Regions from separate parts of the Homo sapiens genome. Here region 1 is linked to region 2. The links come from fine-mapping of genetic effects on gene expression. A gene starts in region 2. The other region holds a variant in brackets. All regions are shown on one strand. Distances are between the middles of the regions.

Region 1 (2,923 bases), 67 kb before region 2:
TACTAAAATAATGTCCAGGTAAGACAGAGCATGAGCCACAGAAAAGATATTTAAGAGTTTCACAACTTAAAGAAGCAGAATTTAAAACACAAAGCTTCTTTGGAGGAGAAAGAAACCATAAAGAAGGCACCTCTGGCCAATGGGATAGTGAATTAAATGAAAGAGGACATTTTTGAATCCCGCAAGACAAAAGGGGAACACAAAACTAGATAATTCACAATCCCATTGCCTATCATAAAAGCAAACAAACAAAACCATTGAAGTTTTCGAGTTTTGAAATACTGTGAGACAGGAGTATCATTAAATTAAAAATCTTGTAAAACACTGTAATACCACACATAAAAAAATAGACAAGAGAAGATTAACAGATTCAAAATGAGCTTTTGAAAGAAATCTGAAAACAAAATTCAACACATATTAACTGAGGAAATTTTCCCTCAGACTAATAACCATGAAGCAGAAGAAAACTCCAAGTCAAAACTATAAATGGAATGAGATAGTCTCACAAGTAAATGAAGATTTGAAAAAATAATCTAAATCAGAAATTCAAAATCTGAGGCTAGACATGGAAAAAACCAGTAAAAATTAAAAGAAAGTTGATTGAATTCAAAAAAGAAATGGAATTAAAAGACAAAATTAACATAGAAATGAAGAATGGATTTTAAGACGCCCATGAGAGAATTGATTTTAAAAAATTAAATAAGGAGCATTGAAGAAAAACAGAAAAATAATTAAGAGAATAAAAATGAGTGAAGAAGTGAATATGATACAAAGATAGAAAGAGAAGGAGTAATATGTGTATTATTGCAATCCCTGAACAAAACAAAGAGTGAAAAGCAAAACTTTAGGACATTAGACATTAGAAAATAACTATTAACAAAAACATTGGAAAATAATGTTTGAAATTATAATCACAGAAAACTTCCCAGACATTTAATAAAAAGTTTGAACCTAAAAATGGGAAGACCCCACTGGGTACTTGGGAAAATACAGTTTATGAGAAAATTTAGTTTATCATTAACCCAGACTGATAAACTTTAAGACATATTCTAATAACCATTAGGTTTCAGAGTTAAAAGAAAAATTCTCATGACCTCATGGCCTAAATAAACAAACATGTAACTTGCAATGACAGATATATTGGACTGGCATTGGTCTTTTGATAACCCAATTTTAAAGCAGTAGTATAAAAAAATGCTTAATGAGAAAAACTAGTGTAAATTAAGTATTTGATATTCAGCCAAACTGTCCCTCCAGAACCAAGCAAGACTACAGGAAAATAGATAATAACAAGCAAGAACTTAGGTAAATTTGTATGCAGTAACCTTCTTGGGTAATCTATTAGAATATGAACTTTATATTTTTAATAACATCATTTAAAAGAAGCCTGGGACCATTTTTGGAAAATTCTTTTTAATTCAAACATTCCAAGCATATTGAACTAATGGAAAATTTAATTTCCTGAGAAATGTATGCACCAATATTGGTGGATGTACTTGAGAAAAATAATTAACACTATATTCCCAATAGGGTTTTTTCTTTATTTGGGAAACATTAATAAATTAATAAATTTATTCTGGGGATTAAAGGGACTTGAAACCTTCAAAGGGAAATTCACCAAGAATCTTGAAAATTATTCAAGTATAAATGAGTATGGAGGGGAAAATTATGAGGCATAAAAC[A/G]CCTGTCCTCAACAGGTAAAACTAATCAGATAAGAAGTTTAAAAATTTACTATTTGGAAAACAATAACTTGGCATCAAATCAGTGTGGCTAAAGGATTAACCAAGGAGATCTCTATAAAACAAACAAAAACTCTTAAACAGAAATAGTACTTCTTGAAAAACAAAACTACAATATTCAGACCAAATTTGATTTGTACCTCCTCCAAGCTTGAAGGTTTGTAAAGAAAGCTGGTGCCTTATGTCATCCCAGATTTGCAACCAGGTAGCACCATGGAAACATGCTGACTTAGTAGTTAAAACTTCTTCTCCATCAAATGATGGCAGTAATCCCACACCCCGAAAATACAAAGACACAAGGAGCATTATCTTTATTAATTTGCAGATATTAATCTGCAAACCATTTGATTGTGAATCAGACTTCCCTGAGTTTCCAGAGCGCTTTCAGGTTCAATTCTGTGTTCAACTAGGGGCATTTTTCACTTTTTAGTATCTGGTCAAGTTCTAATCTTTGTTCTTTCCCCCTGGAAAAAAAAATGCAGTTTATTGAAAATTAGAGCCAATTATGTTATTGCATTTTTCAAAAATATATCTAAGAGACCTTGGAATTATTATAAATTTTTTTGTCCCTTAACCTGGAAACATTTTTGATTAGCCTATGAGGTGGTGATACTTTTCCTATAACTGAATACATTTCTGTTTGTTTATATATTTTAAAAATTCAATTATATCCCTGTCTATCACCACTTGTATATTTAGCATTGGTATTACTTCATTGAGGAGGAACAATTTATGTGTTCCCTGACTTGGTAGCTTGCCATACCTTAGGGAATCCTCTCAATATTTTTTTCCTATGTCTGTGTCTGAAGTTGAAAATCCCAAGCAATTTTATGTCCTTACATACTGCTAACTATCCACCTCTGCCCAATACAATGACATCTATATTGTCCCACATCTCTGGTTTTACTTCAAAGACACTTCTATAACCAGAGTATATGGGACAAGTGGCTTGAATAGGGCAGAGAACAATATTGAGTATCTAAGAGTCAGATGTTGTGATGGACATTTTAAACCTGCCATCTAATTTCATCTTATTATTTCATGGAAGAGAACATTGTGTCTCAAAGAGGTTAGGTAAGCTTTCCAAGACAAATTCAAGCTTATCTTAATCCAAAGCCAAGTAGTACAAGAACATGATATGAGAAAAAGCAAGAAAATTCTGAATGCTCTTTTAAATGATTTTT
Region 2 (2,923 bases):
CCTTTTAACCTGTTTCTGCTTTTGTGTCAATGTCAACCGGGATGCGAATGGGGCATTGTGGGAGACAGGAGAGGACAATACTGGGGAGAATTAGCGCATTGGCGGTAGCCTTTCAATTCCAGCGCTGAAGCAACAGACTGAGAGGAGGTGAACCTTTACCTTCTCCCAGGCACAGACAAGGCGAGGTGAGGCAGAGATGGATTGCAGAACCGCATTAAGCAACCGCGGGGTGGAGGAGAGTGCAGGGTGTCTCCAAACCCTGGGAGGGCTATCTTCTCCTTTCAGAGCACATTTCTGCCCAGGTCTTTTTATTCTCAGTGCAGCTCGCTCCCTGGTGGCTTAAATTACGGTAAACGAAATAAGGTCCGTTAAAAACCACTTCTGAGAGGGGTGATTATTGGGGGTTTTGAAAGCACAGAGGTCTTATAGAGACCAAAAATATGTGCCTCGCTAAGATACAGAAAGGCTTGTAAGTGAATCTTCATAACTCTGGGTACGTGCATGTATATGCACATATACGTATGCATGTCTCGTTTCTATACCTTATATAAGTTTTCTGCCCAAAACTTTCCTCGTCCGTGCGTTCCCTACCACGGCGCATCTAATCTGTCTGCCCTATTTGTGGCTGCACAGCTCATTCTTGCAACCGGCTGGGGAGCTGTTGCTTCTGCCAACGCCGCCGTCAGCCAGAGCGCTGAAGAAAAGCTGAAGGCCAGCAGGCAACGAAAGAGTAAAGAAAACGCCCTCCTCCTGCCCATCTCCTCCACCACAGCCTCCCCAGTCCTCCCAGGTGACTCCCAAACAGTAGAAAGTTGGCTCAGAGATAGGGCAGAAGAACCGGGGGGCTGGGCGGCTGAGGCCGGGAGGTGGGAGAGGCGGGTCCTGCAGCCCCGAGAGCCCCCCGCGGCTGCAGCGGCAGCTGTCACCTCCTGGCCTCGCCCCACAGCACACCTGAGCCTCCTGGGCAGCCCCGAGCCCACAGCTCCCAGCAGAGGCGCTAACTGCCCTCCTCAAGCACAGGTCGCCGCGTCCCCAACTCCCTGTCCTCACCCCGGCCCGCCCGTCTCCTCCTCCGCCCTCTCCCGACTGCAGCGGGGGCAGCGCTTTGGCGCTCCCAAGGACTCCCCGCCACTCTCCCCACAAAGCAGCGGCGGTGGCGGCGGCTGCTGCTGGATCTTCACACTGCAGCCAGCAGCCCAGGACGCCCCCGGCCGGACGATGGGTACCCGCGCCTGAGCATCCCCCGGGCAGGCGCCAGGCGCGAAGGCAGGGGGCGGGAGGAAAGGGGCGGGGGAATTCCTGATTCCCTGGTGGACCCTGGAAGTTGTCCTTAAATAAATATATCGCTGGCCCGCGGTTGAGCAGCCACCTCGTCAGAGCAGCATGTGGACTGGCTCGCCGGGTCCCCTCCGTGCTCTGTGCTGTCGCCGCCGCCGCCTCTGTCAGAGCAGCAGCTGTCGGCAGCAGGAGCCCCGCACGGGGCGCGGAGCAGGGACGCGCTGCCACCGCCTCCCCCTGCGTCCTGCTGGCCGCGTCTTCTCGGGAGGTGGTAGTCGCTGTTGCCGCTGAGAAACCCGCCCGCTTTCCACGGCTGGTCGCCTGGTGAGGAGTTGAGACTCTGCGCCTCCGCCCGGACCCACATGGCTTGTTACCTGGTCATCAGTTCGAGACATCTCAGCAATGGGCACTACCGGGGCATTAAAGGAGTCTTCAGGGGACCCCTGTGCAAGAACGGATCTCCCTCTCCGGTAATGTGCGCGCGCACACACATACATACACAAACGTTCCAACTCAACACAAACAAAAAGATATTGAGAGATAGTATCCTGATACAATGAGTAGGTGGTGGACATCTAAAACGTATACCTTATCCATAGGTATGGAGATACATCGTGTCCGTTTATACAATTTATTGACAGACTGTGACACAGAGAGGGGTGTGTATTTACATGTGTATTTTCAATTCAGTCAGTAGGATCTATAGTGCTACGGATGTAAATACTTACTGAATGCAGTCAACTGCAGGGCTCAGAAGGTAGCTCCTCTGTGCTATGTCAACTTACGAATCTGCTGATTTGAGCAGTGTAGAAAGTTTGAGTGGCACGTTATAATGTGCTTTTGTAAAGTCATCAGTTGAGATTAGTTTAATAATGCTACTGTTACTTTGTGAGAAAAACTCAAAGATTTTCCCTCAAATCATTGGCAAAAGGAAAGTTATAGGTAGTGAAAACTTGATTATATCTAATGCTCAACTATGCACATTCTTTAAGGGGAAGTAAGAGAATTCTTTATGGAAATCTGAGTTGGATAATTTATTGTATAATATACAAATATATTAACATGCAATTAACGTGATTGCTTTTTAACTTAGTAAACTATTCAATTTAGTTACTATTCAGTTTATTCACATTCTTTTTATAAAATAATTTCATCCAGATTATATGAGTTAAATACATTATTAATTCATTTCTTGGTACATGCTATTATGTTTTAAGGCTCCAAATATGTTTCAAGAAAATGTGTGTGAATGTGTATGTGTGTGTAATTTATATATATATATAATAAATATATATATAATAAATATATATATAATAAATATATATATATATTAGTTTTGGACTACTAGTGACTAAGTATCCAAACTTAAAGACCAACTTTTGAGGTTTCATATAAAAAACAGTATTTAAGTCTGTATGATATCAAGAGGGAAAACTGAAATTGCCCAACTTTAATTTTTTTATGTTTGATATTTTCCATCATGGTTTAATGCTTCTTTAGCATGAATTATTCAAAACTGCAACATATTATAAAAGCCTTTGATTATTAATAAATGCTATATGTAATTTACATGAGAAATCTAAGATCAGAAAGTACAGGTGCCCAGAGATATCACTAGGATTCCTCATGACAAACTATTCCTTCA

Alleles and levels. Positions count from the first base shown, and alleles are read on the strand shown. Sizes are in standard deviations (SD) of each study's normalised expression.
For the expression in pancreas of the gene that starts at base 1,364 in region 2, G is the low allele of the variant in region 1 and A is the other (large effect, 0.88 SD a copy in GTEx).

Evidence for each region.
Region 1: its variant is fine-mapped to the expression of ZNF804B in pancreas (GTEx, PIP above 0.99).

Annotation. Positions count from the first base shown.
Region 1 is chr7:88,691,584-88,694,506 of GRCh38, forward strand. All of the region lies in intron 1 of LOC107986816 (a long non-coding RNA gene), which reads left to right. Among named protein-coding and RNA genes, the nearest start is that of ZNF804B, 67 kb to the right of the region's middle. The variant A/G (reference allele first, on the strand shown) is at 1,683.
Region 2 is chr7:88,758,337-88,761,259 of GRCh38, forward strand. ZNF804B (zinc finger protein 804B) reads left to right here and starts at 1,364. Exons shown (of 4, transcript NM_181646.5): 1 at 1,364-1,748. The coding sequence starts at 1,641. RefSeq lists an enhancer at 1,510-2,054.